Linked DNA regions of Homo sapiens: all the other regions are linked to region 1. Evidence: fine-mapped expression QTL. A gene starts in region 1. Each other region holds a variant in brackets. All regions are shown on one strand. Distances are from middle to middle. Region 1 holds the start of FCHSD1 (FCH and double SH3 domains 1). Region 2 overlaps DIAPH1 (diaphanous related formin 1). Region 3 holds the start of PCDHA6 (protocadherin alpha 6). Region 4 overlaps PCDHA1 (protocadherin alpha 1).

Region 1 (5,516 bases):
TGTTCCCTTGCTCACAGTACTCCAGCCATACTGGCCCTCTCTCAGTTCCTCGAGCCTACAAAGTTATTCCCACCTCAGACCCTTTGCACTCACCATTTCTTCTCTCTGCAATGTTCTTCCCCTAGATCTTTGCAAGGCCAGCTCCTTCTTGACAGTTAGGCCACCTATTCAGAGAGGCCTCCCTCTAAATTCTACCCCCTTGTTATTCTTTATCATAGTACCTTGTTTTATTTTCATCTTAATCTAAGTATTTATTTGCTGTCTGTCTCTCTTAACCAGACTGTGAGGGCAGGAACTCCATTGGTAGTGTTCTCCACTGTATCCATAATGTCTAGAACAGTGCCTATTATATACAGATCCTCAATAAATGCATATTAAAGGACTGAAAAAGAAGGGTATTCTCTCCATTTTATAGAAGAAAATAAGGCTCACAGAGATCAAGTAAATTAACCAAGGTTACCCACCCAGGAAGTAGGAGAGCCTGGATTCAACCCAGTCTTTCATACATATGCACCTATGTTCCAAACCACTAGACTACTCTGCCTCCCTCTTCCCTGCCCCCACTCATGCCCTCATCCCTCGAACCTTGGTGCTCAGTTTCTGGAGACTGGTCCGAGAGTGGAAGATCCCATGGTCACTTCGGTTTAGCCTGTGCAGATGAGAGAAAGGAGTCAGGCCCACCCCAAGTGGGAGAATATGAGATCAGAGTCAGGCCCAGCTTTGGTGACTTGGCTCCACCCCTAGACAGCCCCACCTCCCTGTTCCCCAACCTTGGGCTTCCTCACTCTCCATGACCCCACCTGGCCTGGACATCAGCCGCCTTCTCCTGTGCCAAGGCCCACACACGTTCCCGCTGCCCATACAGCTTCCGACTTCGGCTCAGCTCCCGGACAGACTGCAGCACCTCAGCCTGCGCCCTCTGGAGGTTCTCTGTTCCCTATTGGGATGCATACACAAAGTCCTTACCTAGACCACCTTTGGTCCCAAGCCAGCTCTTCCTTCACCCCAACCTCTGAGCCATACCTTCCTAAGCACCTGCTCCTTGGCGCTCCGCCCTGTACCCCCTGCTAGGTCACGGTATCGGTCAGACGCCTGGAGTCGGGTTTGGCCCCCAGCCACGGTGGCATCCAGCAGGCAGCGCCAGGCACCGAACACTGTCCTGCCCCTCCCCAGAGAAGGTCTGTGTTGAGGAGGAGAGCACTCCACAGCTTCATGAGACCACCCCCACCCCCTGCCCCCTGACCAACACCATGGGAGACAGAGTGCTTTCCCATCCTCCCTTGTCTGGGAGCCCATCAATCGATCAGCCCATTAGCTCAGCCACAAGCCTCACTCCTGCCCTCCACCCCACCCACAGTGTCCTTGCTGGGTCAGCTCCTCTGCTGCTGCTGTGTCAGCTCTACCTACAGCTCACGTGCCTTCCCCACTTGCTAGGCCTTCATCCCCACAGGTTCCTGGGGCTGAGCTCCCCATCACTTTTTGGCCTCTGTGGCCCTCCCCCTCCATAGGGCCCACCTGCTGTCCATCTCACCGCTCCGGTGCCCTTCCCTCTTCAGGAATGGGCCAGCCAGTTTCTGGAGTGCCTGGTGAAAAAGCCATCACAGAACCAAGTTCCCTTTCAAAGACCCACCCCAACTGGCAGAATATGACATCAGAGTATAATCATACCATTCTTTGGGTACATTATGTGCCACTTGCTTTGCTAAATGCCTTATAGTCATTAATTTGTTTAATCCTTACAACAACCCTACATGAAGGTAAGGTATTATTATTATTCCCATTTCACAGAGAAAGAAACTGAGGTCAAGAAAGGTTAAGTAACTTGTCCAAGGTCACATGGCTATAATTACACAGCAGGGATCTGACACCAGTCTGCTTGACTCTAGGCATCTGCTCTTGACCACAATAGGGATAGGTATGGACAGACATTACTGGTGATATAAGAGAGGCTGGAACAAGAGGTAAGGTCCAGAGAAAAGTCCCATACCTGCCCATACTCCCGTTCAATGGCTGCCCTCTGCTTGCTGTAGGATCTGCGGAGATTGCAGGTCGGGGGTGAGGTGGGGGATAAGGTTATGTTTGGTCCTGTTCTCCCATCCTCAGTCCTCTACTCTGGGCAGGAGGGAGCGGTTGGGGGGAGCCAGGTTCCTAGAGTGTAACTACACCCAGAGGGAATGGGACTGATGGGAGTCCTTGAGATCACCTCGGGCAGCTGCAACACAGGAAACCCTCACCTTACTGCCCCGGGCCCCAGCAGGATCCTCCCCACCCCAGAGGTTCATCTGTAGGCTTAGAGGTGAAGACTGATGGGGGCCTGGGTACGATGTCTGCCAGCCTTCCAACAGGTCTGGAAGAGGGAGAGGGATTCTGCCCTAAGGTTGATTGTGGGGTTGGGGGCAGTGGTGTGGAGTCAAGGGCTTTGAGGGAGGGTTCCTGTGTGTTTATGTGGGTGGGAGGGGGTTGGGAGGGGTTAGGTGGGGGAGCATTCCTATCCAGTATCTGGAGAGGCCAGGCCTAGGGTGAGGGCTGTGGATGGGTCGGCTGGGGAGCTCTTGGCCCCTGTTCCTCCACCCCAGCACATGTATATTGGGGAGAAGTGGCGCACAACGACGAAGGTGAGTGTAAATGAAGGGGGTTGGGGGAGCTACCTGATGTCCTCCAGCAGATCCGCCTCCCTCTGCTGCCAGGTCTGAAGGATGCTCAGCTGTTCCAGGAAGCGAAGCTTCACCTCCTGGGCCGGCTTCACCTGTGGGGGCAAAGAGAGGATGAAGACCCCAGCGCAAGGACCTAAAAAACACTCCGCGCAGGGAGCGGTGAGGGGGCGGGGCCGGGGGGGTGCTGAGCTCTTTCCTCTGTTACTTCTGGTTTGGGGTCTGACCCCTTCCGACTTCCCGTCTCCTACCACAAGTCGGATGCCCCCTTAGCTCCCTCCGTTCCCCCAGCCCGCCAGGAGTCCCCATTCAGGGCCAAGCTCACTTTTCGGGGCGGCGGCTGCATCTCCGCTCCAGCAAGGCGGTCAGCCACTGGACTCCGGAACTGGAGGAAGCCCCGCCCACTATGGAGCCCCGCCCCAGGCCAGGTCAGGCCCCGCCCTCTGCCCGCCCACGACTTGTCCGGCGACGTCGCAGGGCGCGGAAGCGAGAGGGGGCCACCGAGAAACTAAACCTGTTACTGCTGCGAATACGCCGGCAGGGTCCGGGTGGCGGGGCGGGCGGGGCGGACGCAGCGTCCGCTGGGCGGTGGGAAGAACCCCAGGCATCTGAGTCAAGACGCCTAAGTTCTATTTGTAGTGTAACCACTGATTCAGCCTGTAATTATTGATAATTATTCATTTGCATATGTAGATCCCCAGTCCCCGAGCTAATGATGAGGAATGGAGAGGAATTCAGTGTGTGACCAGGGAAACTGAGTCACTGGGCACCTGAGCAAAGATGCATCTGACGAAGAGAGGGCTGGTCCCAGACCTTTTCCTAATTCCCGCTTAACTGGAAAAGCCAGCGTGAGCGGGGTGAGAAAGATGCCTGGATCCAGGAAGGAACCAGGCCCAAAGGGAAAAAGACTTGGCCCCACTGAAAACTAAACGATACCAGTGAGTCGGCGAGAGCTGGGAGATGCGCAGGAAGCCCCTGCCACCTTTAGGATCTTCCAGCCCTAGCACTGCTTCCTGAGGAGCCTCTCCCCAATTCCTCATCCTCCTCACCTAAGCTTCTTTGGCTCAGGCACCTGTCCCAGTACCCCTGACATGTCTCAAAACTCCAGATTCACATTCCAACTCCCCACTGACACCTCTGCTAGTATATCTAATAGGAACCTCAACTTTTAAAGCTTTTAAACCTCCTTCAACCTGATCCTCCCCCCGTAACGTTTTAAATGGCACCGCATTTCCTCCAGTCAGTTAAGTCAGAAACCCAGAGTCAATGTGCCTTCTCCTACCCCTACATTCTATCCATCAGTAAGTCCTACAGGTTCTATTTCAAACAACAATAAACAAACAAAAACCTCTTGATCCACTTCCCTCAATTTCCAAGACCACCATCCTAGTCCAAGCCCCCATTATTAGACTTCTGGTCTAATATCTGATCTCCTTGCTTCCACACTGCCCTCACCCCAACCCACTGTTCACACAGCACTCAGAGTGATCAACCTTTTTTTTCTTTTTTAAAGGGAAATAAGATCTCATAATTTACTTGCTTAAAATGCACTTGCTTCAGAATAAAATCCAAATAGAATCCATGGCCTTCAAGGCTACGCATGGAAGACCCTGCTGGTCTTTCTTACTTCAGCCTGTACTCTCCTCCCACTGTCTGCTCACTGTGCTCCAGCCTCTTTGCTGTTCCCTCAGTAGACCAAGTCCCTTCCAATGCAGAGTTCTTCATGCCTGCTTTCTTTCTCCAGAATCTCCTCCTTCCAGCGTTCCATCTGTCGCCTCCAACAGCTTCTTTCCCTTACTTTGCAACTCTTCACAGATGCCTTCCCCATCCACCCATCCAAAGACCATCTCCACAATCACTCTTTTTTTTTTGAGATGGAGTCTTGCTCTGTTGCCAGGCTGGAGTGCAATGGTGCAATCTCGGCTCACTGCAACCTCCACCTACCAGGTTCAAGTGATTCTTCTGCTTCAGCCTCCCGAGTAGCTGGGATTACAAGCACGTGCCACCACAACCAGCTAATTTTGTATTTTTAGTAGAGACAGGGTTTCACCATCTTTGCCAGGATGGTCTCAAACTCCTGACCTCAGGTAATCCATCCCCCTCAGCCTCCCAAAGTGCTGGGATTACAGGTGTGAGCCACTGCGCCTGGCCTCCACAATCACTCTTCAAGCTCATCACTTTGGTTCAGTTTCTTCACAGCACTAAACTCACTTGTTCAAGTACTGGTTTATGTGTTTATTTGCTATTTTCTGTTCCCCTCCACAACGGAGGATTCATAAGAGCAGGGGCCCTGTTTGTTTTGTTCATGCTATATCCCCAGACCTGGCACCAATTAGGTGCACAATACATATTTGTTGAATGAATGAATGAGAATGGTAGTCTTTTGGTTCCCAGGTTTATTGACAATTACTCATCTATTTTTGACTCCCCGAGTCCCAGCTCCCAAACTCGCTCTCCCTACTCCAGGCTTCACGGTAGTCCCAGAATGTAGGAAGTGGGACAGGATAGACTTTAACATCACCCAGGCCTCTGGTTTCCAAAGCATTTTTTTTCTTTAATGCAGTAAAACCATTCCTTTAAAACCCAAAATCTCTCATGGAACCCCTACGTATCAAATATATAAAGCAGGAGCTGCCCTTGTTCAGGGATAATATGTGGGGCTTATGGCTCTAAGAAACACAGTTTGACATTCACTGCTCTCCTTACTTCAGTTACCTCATGGTATAGATAAATGGGCTGGGCCCAGAGAGGGGCCATGACCTGTCCTGGGACACGCAGCCACTGAAGCCTTTAGTCCAGTGCTCCTTCCACAGCACCACACTGGATTCTGGAGTCTTTCCAGCCAGGGCAGAGGAAGCTGCAACA
Region 2 (5,585 bases), 40 kb before region 1:
GAAACTCTTCCCTACTCCTCACCACTAGTCACCAGAAACAAATCCCAGTTCCAGGTACTTGGACCTCTGTGGCAATGTCTTAATTATTAACCACTGGCAAATAACTGCCAGGTCTAAAGAACAAACTTCAGCAGTTCCCAGACTCAGAAGAGATCCTGGTTATTAGCCATTTGCAATCATTACAACAGTCAAATTTCAGGAGCACAAACAGAGGTCTTTAAGAATACCAAACGTCAAATTTAAAATATAAAAAGGATAACTATAGAGACAGTCTAGTAACAGCTTCCCCCTTCCTGTAACATTGTTACCACTACTTGTGGCTCTCAGCAATTTAAACAACTAAAACTCCTGACAGGTGATGATGTTAGAGCTGTTCTACTTACAAAGGAGACACAGTTACATTAAAAAATAATAATTTAAGCATCATCCTAATAACGCATGAGCCAAGCGAAAGATAGGTTTTGCAAGCACTGTAATAGCTATTTTTTCATGCCTAAAAAAGGTTTAATTAAGATTCTTCCAATGGCTTCAAAGTCTAAATTACTAAATGCAAAAAAAAAAAAAAAAAAACAGGCATTTAGCCACTACGCTTTTTACATCTAAGCCTAGTACTTTTTTCCTGCCAACTGAACTCTAGGAGAATCCAGTTCATTTTAATAGACTGTAGATGACCAAAGAACTCTAAGGGAATACCACCAAAATTTTCTAAGAAATTCCTAGCAGTGAATAGTTACACTGCAGTCCAGTTTTACACTGCAGGCACAAAAACTGGACACACATAAACTGTCAGTACAATGTAGTGAGTAAGTCCATGAGTTTTGAATCAGCTAGGCCTAGGTTTGAATCCTAGCTCTGTCACTAACTAGTTCTATGTCTTCAAGCAGGCTGCTTGATCTGAGTTCCAGTTTCATTACCTATAAAATGGGAATAATAACAGTACCTATTTTATAAGGTCAATGTAGAGATTAATGAGATAATAAATCTAAGGCTCTTTAGCACTGCACTAGGGATACAGTTAAGTATGCAACAAACAACTGCTTTTATTACTGCTACTGTTGTTATTCCCTATCCTAGTCTGGAATGAATTAATTTTCCTTATCTATAAAGATGCTAAACATTCATTAATATTTAGAAACAGGAAGACTGGCATTACACAATCTGTAGTATACTGAATACAGGAAAACAAAAGGTTGCTAACACCACCACCTAACAAGAAAAAAATGCTTCCACGATAAATGGAATGAAAGTCCCGAAATCCTCAGAGTATCAGAAATGTTCTCTGTTGACCACAGGTGACAATTTATATCCCAAAGTGAACATGTGGAACTCACATATGCATGATAGAAAAGAGGGAAATTTAAAAGCTAAATCTATACAAGTTCTAGAAGAAAAGAGAGAAGCCGAGCACAGTGGCTCACACTTGTAATCACAGGGCTTTGGGAGGCCAAGGCAGGAGGATCACTTGACGCTAGGAGTTCGAGACCAGCCTGGGCAACATAGTGAGACCCCATTTCTTTCTTTCTTTCTTTCTTTTTTTTCTGAGTTGGAGTCTCGCTCTGTCGCCCAAGGGTGACATGATGTATGGCTCACTGCAACCTCCGTCTCCTGGGTTCAAGCAATTCTCCTGCCTCAGCCTCCCAAGTAGCTAGGATTACAGGCACCCACCACCACACCCGGCTAATTTTTTTGTTTTGTTTTGTTTTTGAGACAGTCTCACTCTGTCGCCAGGCTGGAGTGCAGTGGCACAACCTCGGCTCACTGCAACCTCCACCTCCCAGGTTCAAGCAATTCTCCTGCCTCAGCCTCCCGAGTAGCTGGGATTACAGGCACGCACCACCACGCCCAGCTAAGTTTTGTATTTTTAGTAGAGACGGGGTTTCACCATGTTGGCCAGGATGGTCTCGATCTCTTCATCTCGTGATCCGCCCACCCTGACCTCCCAAAGTGCTGGGATTACAGGTGTGAGCCACTGTGCCCAGCCCAATTTTTGTATTTTTAGTAGAAATGGGGTTTCACCACATTGGACAGGCTGGTCTCTTGGCCAGGCTGGTCTCAAACTCCTGACCTCGTGATCTGCCCACCTCAGCCTCCGAGAGTGCTGGGATTACAGACATGAGCCACCGTACCCCGCCTAGCGAGACGTCATTTCTACAAAAATAAAACATAAAAAAAATTAGGCCAGGTGCAGTGACTCATGCCTTAATGCCAGCACTTTGGGAAGCCAAGGTAGGAGGATCACTTGAGCCCAAGAGTTCAAGACCAGCCTGGGCAACATAGTGAAACCCCACCACTATAAAAAAAAAAAAAAGAAAAAGAAAAAAATCAGCCAGGCATTGTGGTGCATGCCGGTAGTCCCAGATACTCCAGGAGACCGAGGCAGCTGGATTGCTTGAGCCCAGGAGGTCGATGCTGCAACTGAGTTGTCATTGCACCACTGCACTCCAGATTGGGTGACAGAGTGAGACTCTGCCTCAAAAAAAGAAAAAAAGAAAAGAAAAGAAAAGAAAAATTAGCCAGGCATGGTGGTCCCAGGTACTGGGGAGGCTGAGCCCAGGAGTTTCAAGGCTGCAGTGACCTATGATTGTGCCACTGCACTCCAGACCAGGCAACAAAGTGAGATCCATTCTCTTTTAACAACAACAAAAAACAAAACAGAGGAGAAAACCTTAGCGACCATAATTTTAGCAAAGATTTTTGAAATGTAACACACAAAACAAAAATGAAAAAAAATTGGACTCCATCAAAATTAAGTTTTTTGGTTCTTCAAAATACACTGTTAGGAAAATGAAAAGACAGCCAGAAGTGGTGACACACGCCTGTAGTCCCAGCTACTTGTGAGGCTGAGGCAGGATTCCTGAAGCCCAGGAGATTAAGGCTGCAGTGAGCCATGACTGCACTACTGCATTCCAACTTAGGCAACAGAGTGAGACTACCATTTCAAAGACAGAATGAAAGACAGACAAAAGAAAGTCAGACAGACAAAAGAAAGACAAAAGACAGAAAGGAAGGAAGGAAGGAAAAATCATGAGCAGATTCTTCACGGACGATACATAGATAGCAAATGGGCAAAATCTTGAACAGATTCTTAAGAAAGATATATAAACAGCAAGTAAGGACAAGAAAAGATGTTCAACATCATTAGGGAATGACAAATTAAAGCATACTGCAGCTGGGCACAGTGGCTCACGCCTGTAATCCCAGCACTTTGGGAGGCCCAGGCAGGTGGATCACCTGAAGTTAGGAGTTCAAGACCAGCTTGGCCAACATGATGAAACCCCATCTCTACTAAAAATACAAAAATTAGCTGGGTGTGGTGGCAGCCTCCTGTAATCCCAGCTACTCAGGTGGCTGAGGCAGGAGAATCCCTTGAACCTGGGAGGCAGAGGCTCCGGTAAGCCGAGATTATGCCACTGTACTCCAGCCTGAGCGACGAGAGTGAAACTCTGTCTCAAAAAA[T/TAATA]AATAAATAAATAAATAAATAAATAAAGCATACTGAGATATCATCACATACCCACTAGAATGGCTAAAATTTAAGACTGATCATACTAACAGTTGACAGGAAATTGGAACTTTTACACATTGCTGGTAAGAATGTAAAATGAAAACAGTTTGGAAAACAGTTTGAAAACAGTTTGGCAATTTCTCAATTAAGCATAGATCTACCAAATGACCCAGTCATTCCACTCATGGGTACTTACCCAAGAGAAATGAAGACATATGTCCAGCCCAAAAAGTTGTATGAGAATGTTCACAGACAAAAACTGCACTCCCAAAACTGGGAACACCCCAAATGTCCATCAATAGGGTAAATGAATAAACAAATTGTGTAAATCCATACAATGTAATAGTACTCAGCAATATAAAGGATTAAGCTATTGATATATGAAAGACCACACATCACAATAAAAGAAGCCCCAGCAAAAGGGTTCATACTGTATGATTCCATTTATATAAAATTCTAGAAAACACAAACTAATCTATAGTTACAGAAAGAAAATTAGTGGTAATCTGGAGATGGGAGGACGAGGATGGGTGAGAGGGAGGGATAACAAAGAGAGAAGGAGGAAACTTGAAGGTGACTGCTATATTCATTATCTTGACTATAGAAATGGTTTCATGAATAAATATGCAGTTTATTGTATTTTAATTATATATCAATAATGCTGTAAAAATAGAGATGAAGGGTATCTTTTCTACTTGATCTTAAAGTTCTGACACTGAAAATAAAACACAGACAGATCTGAGATGTAAGGCCAACTACCAACGTATGCTCTTTGGTTTTCTGTGACCTTCAGTATCAAAAATGGTTTATAAATCATCCTGTCTTGGGTCCTTACAGTATTTTAAATCTTAAAAGAAATTACAAATCCAAAGCCTTCAGATGACACTACTCACAAGACAGGAAATAAGTCACAAAATCAGAAATCCAGAAAATTATACAGGACACCATAAATTCTACCTATATTTGCCACCCTAACAAAATTCCCAGATAGCTACTAAGGACCAGTCATATCCACCACCAAGGATGGAATTTTCCCATCCTCCATAAGAGAATGTTTCCTTTAATTCAATTCCATTATGCTAACTCTCATTTGCATCCCCTTATCTGTTCTATCCCCCGCCTTGGAGGAAAGAAATTTAAACAAATATTTAAAGGGCAAACTGACTCTCCCTAACTGTTACAGAGCCAAGCAATAGAGAGCCAATTTCTTCAATCTTTTTCCTTTCAATCTCACAGCTTCTAGTATATCTGTTCCTTTTATATAATCTCTTTCTACTACTCCAGCCATTCCCAAGATCCTAAAATTTAGTAAAGAAAATGTAGAATCCAAAATTTCTGCTCCTCTTCCTCCACTTGTTCATCCAATTTCCACCTCTTAGCCCCCTGATGTTTCCAACCTACAACTGCAGAAGTGACTGTTGCACTGAGTGGGTGTTTGGACTTGATGACATTTAAAGTCCCTTCCAACTCTGAAGTTTTAAGGGTACCATTCACAGTAAGATTTAATAATGGATGGAAGTAAGAATTTCAAAGTTGAAAGAACAATGAGAGTTATCTTGTAATCAGTGGTAAAATTCATTAAAATATTAGTCTATTTCTCTTTTCCTTCAGTAATTCTTTTACTTCCTTAAAAAGGGTTTCTTGATCCTAAGAAACGTGTTAAAAAAAAGGAGAAATACAGTAAAATATGTTCATAGTAATTATTCTTTACTTTTCAATTTTAGCTTAAAAGTTTTAAGAAATTTTATTATCAACAGCTTCTGACTGCCCCTAATTCCCCAAAGGCCTGGCTATTCATAGCGCTCAAATCAGCCCCCACGTAAGTAGGAAAGGAATAAAAACACAGGGAGGAGGTGACAGGCAGCCAGGCAAGGGGAGAGTGTGGCTTTGTCTCACCTAACCCCAAGGAGGGGCAAACATCCAATGCTTTGCTGGTAGCATAAAATGAATTTTTTGCCTACTGCTTTCAAACAAAGGTAATTGAGAAAAGGAGGCTCAATGAAAAAAGAAAACCACTTAAGTAATACAAAGTTTGTTTCAAAATGGGGATGATTTTTGTAGCCATAAATAATTTCAGCTACTGGGAC
Region 3 (5,585 bases), 820 kb before region 1:
AAATTAATAAAAGAAGTCGGGATAACACTGACCGTGCAAATTACAAACGTGAGGAGGGTTTACTATAAAAGTAGAGAAAAGAAGATACTGTTTTAAAAATATATGGTATAGCACTGTTACGTGAATTGATTTCTTACCTTTTGGAGCCGCATGATGTCGCTGTCTACCATGAAGTTATAGCTAGCCAACATTCAAATTTCTTCTATTACTGCATCATTCCCTGACTGTTGAATGATGGCGGACGCAGAAGAAATGGATTAATAAATTCCGGAACATACAGTATTTTATCTTTATGCGGAAGATCTTCTAATGGAAATAAAACCAGAGGTATTTGACATGGTGTTTACCCCGGAGGATAGATTGGGAAAGCAATGTCTGCTCCTCCCGCTTCTGCTCCTCGCAGCCTGGAAGGTGGGGAGCGGCCAGCTCCACTACTCCGTACCCGAGGAGGCCAAACACGGCACCTTCGTGGGCCGGATCGCGCAGGACCTGGGGCTGGAGCTGGCGGAGCTGGTGCCGCGCCTGTTCAGGATGGCCTCCAAAGACCGCGAGGACCTTCTGGAGGTAAATCTGCAGAATGGCATTTTGTTTGTGAATTCTCGGATCGACCGCGAGGAGCTGTGCGGGCGGAGCGCGGAGTGCAGCATCCACCTGGAGGTGATCGTGGACAGGCCGCTGCAGGTTTTCCATGTGGACGTGGAGGTGAGGGACATTAACGACAACCCGCCCTTGTTCCCGGTAGAGGAACAAAGAGTGCTGATTTACGAATCTAGGCTGCCAGATTCTGTGTTTCCACTGGAGGGCGCGTCCGATGCAGATGTTGGCTCAAATTCCATCTTAACCTATAAACTCAGTTCTAGCGAATACTTCGGGCTAGATGTGAAAATAAACAGTGATGACAATAAACAAATTGGGCTCTTATTAAAGAAATCCTTGGACAGAGAGGAAGCTCCTGCACACAACTTATTCCTGACAGCCACAGATGGGGGCAAACCTGAGCTCACAGGCACTGTTCAGCTGCTGGTCACAGTGCTGGATGTGAATGATAATGCTCCCACTTTCGAACAGTCTGAATACGAAGTAAGAATATTCGAAAATGCAGACAACGGAACAACAGTTATCAGACTGAATGCTTCTGATCGGGATGAAGGAGCGAATGGGGCAATTTCATATTCTTTTAATAGCCTTGTTGCAGCCATGGTTATTGACCACTTTAGCATAGATCGAAATACGGGAGAAATAGTGATTCGGGGTAATTTGGATTTTGAACAAGAAAACTTATACAAAATCCTCATTGACGCCACGGACAAAGGCCATCCTCCCATGGCGGGTCATTGCACCGTTTTAGTGAGAATTTTGGATAAAAATGATAACGTCCCTGAGATAGCACTGACTTCCTTATCCTTGCCTGTACGTGAAGACGCTCAATTTGGTACTGTCATCGCCCTAATTAGCGTGAACGACCTCGATTCAGGTGCCAACGGGCAGGTGAACTGCTCGCTGACGCCTCACGTCCCTTTCAAGCTGGTGTCCACCTTCAAGAATTACTACTCGTTGGTGCTGGACAGTGCCCTGGACCGCGAGAGCGTGTCGGCCTATGAGTTGGTGGTAACCGCGCGGGACGGGGGCTCGCCTTCGCTGTGGGCCACCGCCAGCTTGTCTGTGGAGGTGGCCGACATGAATGACAATGCTCCGGCGTTCGCGCAGCCCGAGTACACAGTGTTCGTGAAGGAGAACAACCCGCCGGGCTGCCACATCTTCACGGTGTCTGCGCGAGACGCGGACGCGCAGGAGAACGCGCTGGTGTCCTACTCGCTGGTGGAGCGGCGGGTGGGCGAGCGCGCGTTGTCGAGCTACATTTCGGTGCACGCGGAGAGCGGCAAGGTGTACGCGCTGCAGCCGCTGGACCACGAGGAGCTAGAGCTGCTGCAGTTTCAGGTGAGCGCGCGCGACGCGGGCGTGCCGCCTCTGGGCAGCAACGTGACGCTGCAGGTGTTCGTGCTGGACGAGAACGACAACGCGCCGGCGCTGCTGGCGCCTCGGGTGGGTGGTACTGGTGGTGCAGTGAGCGAGCTGGTGCCGCGGTCACTGGGTGCAGGCCAAGTGGTGGCGAAGGTGCGCGCAGTTGACGCCGACTCAGGCTACAACGCGTGGCTTTCGTATGAGCTGCAGCCCCCGGCAAGCAGCGCTCGCTTCCCGTTTCGCGTGGGGCTGTACACGGGCGAGATCAGCACCACTCGTGTCCTGGACGAAGCGGACTCTCCGCGCCACCGGCTGCTGGTGCTGGTGAAAGACCACGGTGAGCCGGCGCTGACAGCGACGGCCACGGTTCTGGTGTCGCTGGTGGAGAGTGGCCAGGCTCCAAAGGCGTCATCACGGGCGTCGGTGGGCGCCGCGGGCCCAGAGGCGGCGCTGGTGGATGTCAACGTGTACCTGATCATCGCCATCTGCGCGGTATCCAGCCTGCTGGTCCTCACGCTACTGCTGTACACAGCGCTGCGGTGCTCGGCGCCACCCACCGAGGGCGCGTGCACGGCGGACAAGCCCACGCTGGTGTGCTCCAGCGCAGTGGGGAGCTGGTCGTACTCGCAGCAGAGGCGGCAGAGGGTGTGCTCCGGGGAGGGCCCACCCAAGATGGATCTCATGGCCTTTAGCCCCAGCCTTTCACCTTGTCCTATTATGATGGGTAAGG[C/T]GGAGAATCAGGATTTAAATGAAGATCATGATGCCAAAGTAAGTGAATTTTCATAATTAACAGTTAATTTTTATTTTAAATTTATAATTGTTTTCCTCATATTTGTCTTCTATATTTCTGTTTTTAATTTTTAATTAATTTTACAAAATTACATATTTTCATTTTATTGTGTTTCTTATTTTAATCTCTTTGCTTCTTTAATATTCATAATTTAAGTGAAATTAGAAATCACTGTCCACAATCTGCACCTCAGAATTTTTGTCTTCAAACCAAAATATTCTTGGATATGTCGTTTTCTGTTGCATTTTAATTCAGAATCATAGTAGCATTTTTTTCTGATTAATTATATGGGATTTTCATTTGTTTGCCTTTGAGCTTTAGGATAATTTTTTTACATATACTCTTTTTTGATCATATATTGAAATTTGAGCACCAGTGTATCACTTATGTTTTTACACTTTCCATTTCAATGTTTTTCTGTCGACACTTTTATTAAGCTAACGCTTTGATTTTATCCATTTTGTGTAAGAACTCTGATCATCATAGTTTTTATCTGTGGTTCCCTTTTCAGACTTGTGATTCCGGGAGGCAATAGTGTTCATTTATTGTCCCCCTTTTAAACCATTGAGGAATAAAGGACAAAAACAATAGTTATCAGCCTGAATACTTCTGGTTGTTATGGTTATTGATTTATTTACTACCGATCTAAATAATGGAAAAATAGTGATTCAACAGAATTTAGACCTTGTGATCAAGTAAATTTATATGAAAACTGCATTCCTCTGGCATTGCGGCTCTCTTATTTCTGTTTGAATTTCACTTGATGGTCTTCTCTTCATGGAGTCTAAATCTATTTCTTTGTATTAGTGTTTTCATTGTTTCTACACAGTAATTTAAACTATTCACTATTTTGTATGTGTGTGTGTGTGTGTGACAGGGTCTTGCTCTGTCACCCATGCTGGAGTACAGTGGTGCAATAATGGCTCACTGCACCCTCGAATGCCTGGGCTCAAGTGATTCTCTCACCTCAGCCTCTGGAGTTACTACACACGAGCACCACCATGCCCCCCACCTTTTTTTTTTTTTTTTTTTTTTTTAAGAGATGGGGTTTCTCCATGTTGCCCAGGCTGGTCTCAAACTACTGGGTGCAAGTGATCTGCCCACCTTGGCCTCCCAAAGTACTAAGATTATAGGTGTGAGCCACTATGCTTGGCTAGTCATTATTTCTTTGAATGAAAAGCAGCAAAAAGTAGTGATTAAGTGTGAGTTTTGGTGTTATCCTCCCTTGCCTAAATTTCATCGCTACCAATTTTGTTTTGTGGATGGATTGTTTCACCTCTATTTCAGTTTCTTCTGTAAAGTTGGAATGATAAACACTAGTTTCAATGATAGAATTGTCATAAAGCTTTAGTAAGTTGATATTGTAAGGCGCTTATAACTGTGTTTGCCAAATAGCAAGTGCTTAAAAAATTTGCTACTAGTTTTCCGAAGAGGAAAAGAAAAACTTTATGTCATTTTATGCTAGGAAACTCTCATTACGGATTCCATATTGTTTTCATTTTACGTAAAGATTGAATTTTTGTTATTCATAGTGAGGCCATAATTACCAATTTAATCTGAGATGTCTCTAACATTTTAAATGCCATGTTCTACATTAAAAGCAATTTAAAATGTGTGTTTCAAAGTTGAAAATTGAATTAAGACTTGGACAGTGGAAAAGTTTTATGAATTCAAAAGACATTTAACCTGCTGAGTCCTCAGTGATTTCCTGGAGTTGGTTTTGACTTTTTGTGTTGTCCATGTTCCCAGGAAATATTAGACTACATTAAGCATGAATGGTGTATTTGCCCACATTTAAAAGTTGCTTAAGGGCCATTAGAGGACTGAGTTGTGGTTTGTGTTTCCTAATGTGAGCATTTTCCATTCTTGAAATGGCAGAAACTGGTAGTGGTATTTTCTGTTTTCTAAAAGAAGTACATGATAATTTTTAAGCGTGTAATTAATATTGCACTAAAATTTAAAAAAACTAACTCTACATACTTAAGAGTGGCAGAATTGTCTCTGATTATACTGAAGATCACCATTTGTGTAGCTAATGATATCTAACAGCCTCAAAACAGCATACTTTCTTAGGAAGTAGAGAACTATAGCGTTGCTAGTGAGTAAATGTTTTTTAAAAAGTTCCTAGGAGGGTCTTTAAGAGTATCACACTGTGCCTGCTGAGAATCATCGAATTAACAAGACCTGGCTTCAAATTTAATAGATAAATAAAGGTAAGTATCCTACATAAATACGATGATAGTAAAAGCAAGAATATTGTAAGAGGTGCTAGAAAGGTACATCATAGTGTTATTGGAATTGGAAAAAAATCTTTGCCTTTTTCCCTTGTTGAAGGAGACCGTGAAGAGTCATGATGTTTTACTGGTTATAAAATGGAAAGAGTTTTCCCTGGGAGAATATGGAGACTAACAGGTATTCATGAGAAGAGAGTAACTTAAGTGAGTATACAGAAAATTCCAAATGTACCTAGAAATGAGGAATAGTCCACTTTGGGTAAAGCACATGGTTCCCATAAGAGAGAGTGTGATATAAAGCAAGAAAAGTAATATGAGAAAAACCTTTTGTATAACTTTGAGTACTAGACGAGTAATTTTGACACTCTTCAAAGTCATTTGAAAGCTGTCAAAAAGTGTGAAGCAATACGAATAAAAAGTATTAACGGAAGATGACTGCAAGGATTAAATGAAGGAGAATGAAATAGGAATGGACAGGTTACACAATAAGAAGCTACTGCAATACACCAGGAGAGCAGCAATTATAAAAACTTATTTAGGAAAGCATCTGAATACAGACATAATTATTTTACATGCCATTGGGAACATTGGAGTGAAAC
Region 4 (5,585 bases), 790 kb before region 1:
CACGAGGAGCTGGAGCTGCTACAGTTCCAGGTGAGCGCGCGCGATGGGGGCGTGCCGCCTCTGGGCAGCAACTTGACGCTGCAGGTGTTCGTGCTGGACGAGAACGACAACGCTCCCGCGCTGCTGGCGTCTCCCGCTGGCAGCGCGGGCGGTGCAGTCAGTGAGCTGGTGCTGCGGTCGGTGGTTGCGGGTCACGTGGTGGCTAAGGTGCGCGCAGTGGACGCTGACTCTGGATACAACGCGTGGCTGTCGTATGAATTGCAGTCGGCGGCGGTTGGTGCACGCATCCCGTTTCGCGTGGGGCTGTACACGGGCGAGATCAGTACGACGCGCGCTCTGGATGAGACTGACTCGCCACGCCAGCGCCTACTGGTGCTGGTGAAGGACCATGGCGAGCCGTCGCTGACGGCCACGGCCACTGTGCTTGTGTCGCTTGTGGAGGGCAGCCAGGCACCCAAGGCCTCGTCGCGGGCTTCAGTGGGCGTGGCGCCCGAGGTGGCCCTGGTGGATGTCAACGTGTACCTGATCATCGCCATCTGCGCGGTGTCCAGCTTGCTGGTGCTCACGCTGCTGCTGTACACTGCACTGAGGTGCTCGGCGGCGCCCACCGAGGGCGCATGTGGGCCGGTGAAGCCCACGCTGGTGTGCTCTAGCGCGGTGGGGAGCTGGTCTTACTCGCAGCAGAGGCGGCAGAGGGTGTGTTCTGGGGAGGGCCTGCCCAAGGCGGACCTCATGGCCTTCAGCCCCAGCCTTCCACCATGCCCAATGGTAGATGTGGACGGGGAAGATCAGTCTATTGGAGGGGACCACTCTAGGAAGGTGGGTTATTACGTTTTCATTTTCCTTTTGTGCTTTATGAATAATATTTTCTCTTACCGCATTTTCTCAAATATGTATCAGAATATTTCATTTTTGTCTACATTCCATTTATGCTTGAATATTTCTAGTGATACCTTTGTAATATAATTTATTCCAGGAGTTTTAAAATTTTTTTATCCTACCCAGTGTGTCAGCCTTTGATTGGTACTTAAATTTTTTTAAATAACAATTTATTCTGAATACACTAATATTTTCCAATACAAATATGTGATATAGGTTGCAGTTCTGACGATTTACTTTCATAATCACTTTTCGTTACAAATATTTGTGAGATTAGTACTTCATGTTATTTCATTTCCAATCTAAATTTTGATTTGATTGTATTTGCATTACCAAAAAATTCCACTGATCTATATCTCTTCAGTGAAAATGTGTTTTCCTCCATGTGTAGAATATGTGTAGCGTACCACAGCTTATACTGCCATAGTAGATTTCAATGTTCAGTGATTACAGCTTTTTCTCAATAGTGCAGTAAGTAGGTGGGCAGTTCATTGGTAAAAATTTCTTAATCTTAGCAATTAAGTTAAATGCTTTGAACTTTAAAAACGTTTTCCATTTTTATTTTAGTTGTAGTGGTACCTGTGTCAGTGTGTATTATTCACTTAGCAGAAGAAAATGTATGTTTCTTTTATTTACATAATTTTATCCAGTAGCTCTTCATTATCTGCTCCTTTATCAGCATTAGGCATTGCTTATGATATTCAGGTATTAGCTCTTTCACTTTAAGGAAGGAGTCATGCTTATGTTTAATAATGAAGAGAATTTGAACACTTTTTACTTTTGAGACTGAAAATACTTTAGTATGAATTAATATTAAAAGTTTGAGGAGAAAATAAAATTAATGTTTTCTACTGATCTGATATATTGTATAGTTTAATAGCTTCTCTAGTCATCTTAAACAGGGTTGGGTTAGATGATATAGACTCAGAAATGAAAGCTAACTTAGTTGCAGAGTGACAAAACTACACTATCAATTGTGTTTTCCTGAAATTGGTTGTTACCTGATACCCATGATTTCATTTTTAAAAAAAATTTATTAATTCTAGTGTTACCAAACACCAATGCCATGAATTTGTCATCTTGCCTATGGCTCTTAGCAATTACTTTTTTCTTTCCTTTCTCTTTGAGTATGGAGATTGAATTTGTTACTCAGTACGTGCTTCACAAATAGCTTCAAATAAAATTAAAATTATTGTTCAAGTTTAGGAACAC[CA/C]AAAAAAAATTGTGGCAAGAATTTAAGCATGGCATTCTTTCAGTGTTAATACTCTCCATGCCCTGTCTCCAGCTCTTAGAAATTATAGATGCTAAGTTAATGCAGAGTTTAGAAGTGTATTTGTTATTTTATCAAATAGGTTTATGAAATATATACTTCCCCCTCTGATATTTTGAAAAAAAATCTTCCTTAATGTCTTATATTATAAGTAATATAAAAAACTTAGTAAAAACTCATATCAATTGTAAAAGTCTCAGGTATACAAGTGCATTAATCTCTCCATCAATACTAACTTAAGGCCAGGCATGGTGGCTCACACCTGTAATCCCAGCATTTTGAGAGGCCAAGGTGGGAGGATGGTTTGAGGCCAGGAGTTCAAGACCAACCTGGGCGACATAGGGATATCTTGTACTGTGTGTGTGTGTATATATATGTATATATGTGTATATATATATGTATATATATATGATGGGCTCTCCTTACATATATATCTATATATGTACTTATGTATATATAAGCCAGGCATGGTGGTACATGCCTTTAGTCCCTACTGTAGTGCTACTTGGGAGGGTGAGGTGGGAGGACGGCTTGAGCCTGGGAAGTTGAGGCTGCAGTGACCCATGATTGTGCCACTGCACTCCAGCCTGGATGACAAAGTGAGACCCTATTTCAAAAATTGAAAAAAGCAAAAGCAATAGTAACACCATTATCCTGCAAATATGATCTTTTTCATATTAATTCACGTGATAATACAGTTGGTGCAGTAGTACTTTATTTAGGATGTCTACATACAAGATAAAACTCTTCATGGAATTCTGATTTGTAAGACAAACCCACCTTTGAAGAGGTACTGATCATACACAAGAAGGTATAGGAAAGGAGTTGGAAGCTCACAAAGAGAAACATAAACATATGCAGGAATCAGGAACGAAGAAGATAAGTGAAATAATATGAAATCAAATGCACTTATGTTTTGAGCGACAGGATATTGTTGTTCTCCATGAAAAGTTTTTTTGGTTTTTTTGTTTTTTATTTTTTATTTTTTTGAGACGGAGTCTCGCTCTGTTGCCCAGGCTGGAGTGCAGTGGCACGATCTCGGCTCACTGCAAGCTCCGCCTCCCAGGTTCACGCTATTCTCCTGCCTCAGCCTCCGGAGTAGCTGGGACTACAGGTGCCCGCCAACACGCCAGGCTAATTTTTTGTATTTTTAGTAGAGACGAGGTTTCACCGTGTTAGCCAGGATGGTCTAGATCTCCTGACCTCGTGATCCACCGGCCTCGGCTTCCCAAAGTGCTGGCCGAGTGCCACCGCACCCGGCCGAAAGGTATTTTTTTTAACAGAAGAAAATCAGATTATTCCTAGATCAGAAAGAAGCTCCATTGTTCCTGTACTTTAAAAACTACAAACACCCATTAAGACCACTTGGAACCTCAGGAACAAGGACCAAAAGGTCTCAGAGGAACTAAGTCTTTCTAGTCATGAAATATTGTTTTACTAACCAAAAGAGAGGCATAATTTTAGCTGCTAGACAAAGTGGCCAGGAATCCCGGAGCCTACAGCACTGGCTTCTGCTCCTTGAATTTTGTGAAGCGGGAAAGGACCAGTTCCACTACACCATCCTGGAAGAGGCCAAGGACGGCACATAGCGTCTTCGCGGTCCCTATTGCGCAGGACCTGGGTCTGGAGCTTGTGGAGCTGATACCGCGCCTGTTTCAGTTGGATTCCAAAAGCCGCAGAAACCTTCTGGAGGTAAATCTGCAGAATGGCATTTTTGTGAGTTCTCTGATAGACCTCGAGGAGCTGTGTGGGAGGATCTCGGAGTGCAGCATCCACCTGGAAGTGATCGTGGACAAGCTGCTACAGGTTTTCCATGTGGAGGTGAAAGTGAAGAACAATAAAGACAACCTGCCAGTGTTCTCAGCAACACAAAAGAATCTGTTTCTGAAACGAGAGCTCTTGATTATCGTGTTTCACTAGAGGGTGTCTGTGATGCCGACGTCGGGGCCAATGCTCTGATGACTTACATACTGTGCCGCAATGATTATTTTTCCCTGGAAATACCAAGAGCAGGTAAAACCACTTGAAGGTGTATTTTAAAAATTCTTTCAGATAGGTAAGTCACTTCAGAGCTACTCTTGGTGCTCAAAGCAACTGATGGGGGCGAAGCTGAGCTGACAGGCACCAAAGCATTATATATCACAGCGCTGGATGTAAATGATGATGCCCAGTGTTTGACAAAGGAGTCTATCATGTGAAATTACTGGAAAATGCAAGAGAAGGTACACTGGTTATTAGACTTAACCCCTTGGATTTTGACGAGGGTTCAAACCGTCACATTGTTTCTTTGCAACTGATGTCTCCCCTAACATAGAAGCCCTTTTTCGCATAGATTCAGACAGTGGATAAATAAATGTAAAGATAGGTTTTGAGGAAACTAAATAATGAAAGATTCAAATACAGGCAGTTGACACAGGCAATTCCCCAATGTTTGATCACTGCACAGACTTGATAGAAGTCTTGGACATCAATGATAGTGTTCCAGAGTTAGCAGTAAGTCACTATCATTCCCTGTACAGGAGGACGCTCCACTGGGTACCGTCATAGCCCTAATCAGTGTAATTGACCCTAACTTCAGTGCCAAGGGACAGACGACCCGCACCCTGACTCCTCACGTCTCTTCAAGCTGGTGTCTACCTTCAAAAGGCGCTGCCCAGAAACTATTCGTTGGTACTCCACAGCGCCCTGGACCAAGAGAGCAAATCTATCCATTGTTGGTAATCGCTCGGAATGGGGACTCGCTTTCATTGTTGGCCACAGCCATCGGGTCCGTGGAAGTGGCCGAACAGTGAACCACAATGCCCTGGCGTTCCAGCAGCCCGAGTACATGGTGTTCGTGAAAGGTAACAACCCGCGGGGCTGCCACGACTTCACAGTGTCCGCGCGGGACCGGGACGCGCAGGAGAACGTGCTGGTGTCCTACTCGTTGATGGAACAGCGGGTGGGCGAGTGCGCGCTGTCTAGCTATGTGTGGGTGCACGCGGAGAGCGGCAAGAGGTACGCGTTGCAGCCACTGGACTACGAGGAGCTGGAGCTGCTGCAGTTCTAGGTGAGAGCGCGCGACGCGGGCATGCCGCCTCTGAGCAGCAATGTGACGCTGCCAGGTATTAGTGCTGGAACGACAACTTTGTCTGCGCTGCTGGCGCCTTGGGTGGGCTGGCGGCGCTGTGAGTGAGCTGGTGCGGTATTCAGTGGATGCAGGCCACTTGGTGGCGAAGGTGCGCACGGTGGACTCCAGCTATGACGCCTGGTTGTCGCAACAGCTGCATCTGTCAGCTGGCAGCACCCGTTCCACGTGGGGCTCTGCACGGGCGAGATCAGCACGACGAGTACCCTGGACGAGGCGAAAGCTACGCGCCACCGCCTGCTGGTGCTGGTGAAGGACCACTGCGAGCTGGCGCTGACTGCCACCGTCACCGTGGTGGCGTCGCTGGCG

Evidence for each region.
Region 2: its variant is fine-mapped to the expression of FCHSD1 in whole blood (INTERVAL, PIP 0.98).
Region 3: its variant is fine-mapped to the expression of FCHSD1 in whole blood (INTERVAL, PIP 0.96).
Region 4: its variant is fine-mapped to the expression of FCHSD1 in whole blood (TOPMed, PIP above 0.99).

Annotation. Positions count from the first base shown.
Region 1 is chr5:141,648,372-141,653,887 of GRCh38, forward strand. FCHSD1 (FCH and double SH3 domains 1) reads right to left here and starts at 3,047. Exons shown (of 20, transcript NM_033449.3): 1 at 2,977-3,047; 2 at 2,649-2,746; 3 at 1,988-2,033; 4 at 1,516-1,583; 5 at 1,024-1,165; 6 at 801-937; 7 at 586-649. The coding sequence starts at 2,997. It overlaps ARAP3 (ArfGAP with RhoGAP domain, ankyrin repeat and PH domain 3), which reads right to left. Exons shown (of 33, transcript NM_022481.6): 33 at 5,031-5,516. RefSeq lists an enhancer at 1,069-1,647.
Region 2 is chr5:141,608,618-141,614,202 of GRCh38, forward strand. All of the region lies in intron 1 of DIAPH1 (diaphanous related formin 1), which reads right to left. Among named protein-coding and RNA genes, the nearest start is that of DIAPH1, 7.6 kb to the right of the region's middle. The variant T/TAATA (reference allele first, on the strand shown) is at 3,457.
Region 3 is chr5:140,827,756-140,833,340 of GRCh38, forward strand. The region is part of intron 1 of PCDHA1 (protocadherin alpha 1); the gene reads left to right. All of the region lies in intron 1 of PCDHA2 (protocadherin alpha 2), which reads left to right. All of the region lies in intron 1 of PCDHA3 (protocadherin alpha 3), which reads left to right. The region is part of intron 1 of PCDHA4 (protocadherin alpha 4); the gene reads left to right. It also overlaps PCDHA5, PCDHA6 and PCDHA@. The variant C/T (reference allele first, on the strand shown) is at 2,693.
Region 4 is chr5:140,857,618-140,863,202 of GRCh38, forward strand. The region is part of intron 1 of PCDHA1 (protocadherin alpha 1); the gene reads left to right. All of the region lies in intron 1 of PCDHA2 (protocadherin alpha 2), which reads left to right. All of the region lies in intron 1 of PCDHA3 (protocadherin alpha 3), which reads left to right. The region is part of intron 1 of PCDHA4 (protocadherin alpha 4); the gene reads left to right. It also overlaps PCDHA5, PCDHA6, PCDHA7, PCDHA8, PCDHA9 and PCDHA10, and 2 more genes. Among named protein-coding and RNA genes, the nearest start is that of PCDHA10, 4.5 kb to the left of the region's middle. The variant CA/C (reference allele first, on the strand shown) is at 2,092.